2 separate regions of the Homo sapiens genome follow, and region 1 is linked to region 2. A link means that fine-mapping ties the variant in region 2 to the expression of a gene that starts in the linked region. Tissue or cell type: whole blood. Region 2 holds a variant in brackets; the other region holds the start of a gene. All regions are shown on one strand. Distances are from middle to middle.

Region 1 (2,688 bases), 250 kb after region 2:
ATATATATATATATATATATATAAAACCTGAAAATAATCTAGAAAATAACCTAGAAAATTCTAAGACATAAAAACTGGCAAAGATTTTATGATGAAGATACCAAAAGCAATTGCAACAGAAGCAAAAATTGACAAATGGGACCTAATTAAACTAAAGAGCTATTTTGCAGCAATGGAAACAATCAACTGAATAAACAGACAACCTACAGACTAGAAGAAAATATTTGCAAACTATGCTTCTGACAAAGGTCTAAAATCTAGCATCCATAAGAAACTTAAACAAATTTATTTTAAAAAAAAAGAAGAAGAAGAATAAGCCAGGATCTGTGGCTCATGCTTGTAATCCCAGCACTTTGGGAAGCTGAGGCAGATGGATCATGAGGTCAAGAGATCCAGACCATCCTGGCCAACATGGTGAAACCCCATCTCTAATAAAAATACAAAAATTAGCTGGGTTTTGTGTCACGCACCTGTGATCCCAGCTACTCAGGAGACTGAAGCAGAAGAATCATCTGAACCTGGGAGGTGGAGGTTGCAGTGAGTCGAGATCATGCCACTGCACTCCATCCTGGTGACACAGCAAGACTCCATCTCAGAAAACAACAACAACAACAAAAAGAAAACCAAAAACCTAATTAAAAAGTAAGCAAAAACATGAACAGATACTTTTCAAAAGAAGACATACATGTGGCTGACAAGCATATGAAAACAAAATTCACGTTGTTAATTATTAGAAAAATGCAGAGAAAAACCACAGTGAGATACCATCTCATCCAGTCAGAATGCCTATTGTTAAAAAGTCAATGACAGATGCGGGCTAGGTTGCAGAGAAAAAGGAATGCTTATATGTTGTGGGAATCAGGAGGCCGGAGAGATCACTGGGTGCAACAGGAAGGTTTTATTTAGGTGGCCACTGGCCCAGCGGATTAACATCCAAAGGCTGAGCCCTGAACAAAGACAGGGCTTGACTTTTATACATGCATCAGGCAGGGGCAAGTCGGGTTTTTGGCGCAAAACCTGCGAGGTGAGAAAGCAGTCTTACAGAAGCAGAACAAAGGCAGTTAATCATACCGTGACAGGTTTTACAACAGGATTTGCAACATGAGCCTACCTTACTTAAACATGTCTTGTGACCTTGCCATGCTACAGAAAGAAAAACAAGAACTTACAAAATCTTTACAGACTTGCAGAAATAGTTACAAAAATAGTTGTGAGAGCAGAACAAAGAATAATGTTATGGGGAGAGAATTTCAAACAGGGAAACTGATAAGGAGAACTTGTTTTTCTCATCCCTGCTCCTGGAGCCCACTCCTTCGGAGCCCCTGCCTGGCCTTGCAGATAATTATCATAGCTCCAGCAGGACTTTGGAGTGAGTCAGACTGGTCAGGAAAGGACTTGTTTTCCCTTTACTTGTTTTTCCTTTTATATTTCCTGCTTCATTCCCCCCTTTGATGCTTTTTATAAGTAAAGTTTAAGAGAAAGCATCACTATCTTCATTTACTTCAAGAGGAAGTAGCTCTTTTCTTGGCAGGGGTTAATACTTAGTTAGGGCCATTAGTCGTGTGGTAGTCCGTCTGTCCACAAGAGCCTCTATGGCTGTTTGGATATTTTTGACAATGAGGGGTAAGAGACAAGGGAGTATAAGGCAAACTCCCAATATGGCTAGGACTATTTGTACTAAGGTTTTAAATCCTCCAAGGGATGAGAACCAACCTCTGAAAAGGGAATCTGGAGACTATCCTTTCCAAGTCTGAACTGGGATGTGAGCTAACTTTTGGATTTTAGCAGTTATTTCTTTGATGACCTTTCCTTCGTCATCAAGTTCCAGGCAGCAGTTAGTAAGGTTGAACTTTCCGCATACTCCCTCTTCCTGGGCTAGGAGGTAGTCTAAGGCCAGTCTATTTTGATAAATGACATTTCTCATTTTTGTGGCTTGCTGGGCAAGCAGATTCAAGGCCCCTGCAGTTTCATTGGTAATGATTTCTAGTACTGCCTGCAATCTTATAATGCGGTTAAGCATGTAAACTGGGGTGCGGTATCCCCACATTCCATCTTCTGCCCAGGTGGCTGGGCCATAATATTGAATTATTCTTTCAGGAGGCCATTCATTGTCCTTCCAATCTCCTATAGTTATGCCTCTTTTGCTTTTCCTTTTAGTTTCATCATAGATGGGGTATCCTAAGGCTTCTCCCTGTTTTAGGGGCATTAGGAAGAAGGACGGCCTAATTGTCCCCAGTACACAGGCCCCTGACCATTTAGCTGGCAGTTGTCGATATGCTTGTGGCCCACAGATCCAGTAGAGGCCAGAGGGTGCCTGCCAGGTATTTGGAGCTTCAAGTTGGTACCAAGAATGGTTTAAAGATGGGAAACGAGAGAATGGGCTTGGGTGTGGTGATTCAGAATTATTGCTTTTGCCCCTCCATAAAGTCTTTCCTAGTGTCTCGTTGTAATATTGTTGTCCTAGGCAAGTTAACTCTCCTACTGGGTCTGTAAAGGCCTTTCCCCAGCGAGCAATACAGAATTTTCCAATAATGGAGGTTTTTAAGAACCAGATGCTCTGACTTGATGGTGCAGGTTCGAGGGAAGAGGCGGTTAGTGTGAAATTATCTTGGGGCATTAGTTCCCTTGCTTCCCATGGCCATTGGTCTCCCATGTTCATTCCCCCACAGACATAACATGAAGCAACGT
Region 2 (2,688 bases):
AGTCCCAGCTACCTGAGAGGCTAAGGCAGGAGAATGGCTTGAAACTGGGAGGCAGAGGTTGCAGTGAACCAAGATTATGCCATTGCACCCCAGCCTGGGTGACAGAGCAAGACTCTGTCTCAAAAAAAAAAAAAATTAATGGGTAACAGATACCGTTAGCTGCCAAAAATAATATGACTAGATTTAGTAAGTATCTAGCCATGCAAATAACAGTCCATTAAATTAAGACTCTAATAGGTGCATGTGGACAGCATTTATGTGCAATGTGATGCACCTCTACTCAGCACCTTCTTCTGCCTGCTCGCAGAGATACCAATTTTCCCTGAGTGATTCAGGGTGAATACTGAGAATTGAGAATGCTATGTTCAGAGGGATTACTAGGAACGTCATTAACACAATTGTTTCCATATTATAAAGAAATTTTATGAATCTTACTCTGCCTCAAAAACGCTTTTAGTAAAGGATTGTTTCTTTACAGTGTTCAATTTGAATTCATGGGAAATTTCAATATTCCAGGTAAGTCAGAAACACTTAAGTGTCAACAAAATTCCATAATACGTACTTGAATAAGATAAAGTCTTCTTAGCTAAGAATTTTATTTTATCCATAAATTTAGAGAAGAATAGAAAACCAGTACTTTGGGCCAAATAGCAGTGTTTGCCATGGAATTACCACCCAAACAAGTGCTCTCCAATATCATCATTAAAATAGCAATAGCACCATGTGCTTTCCTAGAAACAGCTGGCCTGTTTTGCAGGGATATAAAGTGGAGAAGGCATTGAAATAATGAAGGGGGGTGATATACATTGAATAATCATATGAAATATACTTTTTAATAAAAAGAAGCATTTGATGTTGTATAACTATAGATGAGACTATTAGTATGAGGTTATAATATTGTTACTTCTTTTTTTTTTTTTTTGAGACTGAGTCTCACTCTGTCACCCAGGCTGGAGTGCAGTGGCACAATATCTCACTGCAACCTCAGCCACGCGGGTTCAAGTGATTCTCCTGACTCAGACTCCTGAGTAGCTGGGATGACAGATGCCTGCCACTGTGCCCAGTAAATTTTTGTAGTTTTTAGTAGAGACAGGGTTTCACCATGTTGGCCAAGCTGGTCTTAGAACTTCTGACCTCATGATCCACACGCCTCGGCTTCCCAAAGTGCTGGGATTACAGGTGTGAGCCACCGCGCCTGGCCAATATTTTTACTTCTATTGATAGGATAACTTCATTCACCATATTCTTATTTAAAATATTCCTTTTTCTGTGGTATATTTGCTAGCTTTTGGTCAAATATTACCTGAGCTCAATAGAAATCAACAAAATGAATCTATATTTTACCACAAGCATTTTAT[TTTTA/T]TTTATTTATTTATTTCTGAGACAAAGTCTCGTTGTGTTGCCCAGGCTGGAGTGCAGTGGTGCAATTTCGGTTCACTGCAGCCTCTGCCTACTGGGTTGCAGCCATTCTCCTGCCTCAGCCTCCCGACTAGCTGGGACTACAGGTGGTGCCACCACACCCAGCTAATTTTTGTATTTTTAGTAGAGACGAGGTTTCACCATGTTGGCCAGGCTGGTCTCGAACTCCTGACCTCAGGTGATCCATCTGTCTTGGCCTCCCAAAGTGCTGGGATTACAGGCAGGAGCCACCGTGCCTGGCAGGAAGCATTTTGTTATTGATGCATATGCTTACTTCGCTAAAAATACATTAGCTTTTTACGAAAAATCTATACTTTACTTTTCTTTGAGACAGAACCTCACTGTGTTGCCAAGGCTGGAGTGCAGTGGCACGATCTCGGCTCCCTGCAACCTCCACCTCCTGGGTTCAAGCAATTCTCCTGCCTCAGCCTCCCAAGTAGCTGGGACTACAGGTGCTTGCCACCATACCCAACTGATTTTTTTTTTTTTGTATTTTCAGTAGAGATGAGGTTTCACTATGTTGGCCAGGCTGGTCTTGAATTCCTGACCTCATGATCCGCCCACCTTGGCCTCCCAAAGTGCTGGGATTACAGGCATGAGCCACTGCACCCAGCCTATACTTTTCTTTCAGTGTGTTATTTATTGCTGAGAAGTGTCCTGCCAGGAAATTGCTATAATCAATCAGCTCTACTTACATTGACTGATAGTGAGTTGAAGTGATGTGTGAATAGGAAACAGATGTGTCTTCTTGGCATCTCTTTTTAAATTTATTCACAGAAGAGGAGGATGCAGATAGAAGATGAAGAAAGATATGATCTTCCTCTTTCTTTGTCAACATGTGTGAAGTCAGAGAATAGGTAACATGGCACCCACCAGGTAGAGAATTCATCTGCATATTAAAAGATTAGGGTGCTATGGCAAGCTTCTTCACACACTATGTAATTGGCACACCTGGTCCAACAAATCCTCTGTGCCCTATGTAAATCAGACACCACCTCCTCAAGCACATCTATAAAACCAAATGCATCTTGCCATGAATGAAGAGATCTGTTCAGAACCCTCTGCTTCTGCATGAGGGGGCTTTTCTCTCTTGTTTATTAAAATTTCCCTCTTAAACTCACTCCTTGCATGTCCGTGTCCTTGATTTCCTTGGCATGAGGCAAGGAACCTGGGGTATTACCCCAGACAAATGATGCCACTTTATAACCACAAATATAATTGAAATATATTTGTATCTTCAGCTTGTGTAGGCATTGGCAAGCCTTCTTC

The links. PIP is the estimated chance that this variant, and not a neighbour inherited with it, causes the effect.
Region 1: ZNF117 starts here. The variant in region 2 is fine-mapped to the expression of ZNF117 in whole blood (INTERVAL, PIP 0.91).

The regions. Positions count from the first base shown.
Region 1 is chr7:64,989,477-64,992,164 of GRCh38, forward strand. It overlaps ZNF117 (zinc finger protein 117), which reads right to left and starts at 1,560. Exons shown (of 4, transcript NM_015852.5): 1 at 471-1,560. The region is part of intron 1 of ERV3-1-ZNF117 (ERV3-1-ZNF117 readthrough); the gene reads right to left. ERV3-1 (endogenous retrovirus group 3 member 1, envelope) reads right to left here. Exons shown (of 2, transcript NM_001007253.4): 2 at 880-2,688. The coding sequence ends at 1,736.
Region 2 is chr7:64,739,985-64,742,672 of GRCh38, forward strand. No RefSeq gene overlaps it. Among named protein-coding and RNA genes, the nearest start is that of ZNF138, 53 kb to the right of the region's middle. The variant TTTTA/T (reference allele first, on the strand shown) is at 1,359.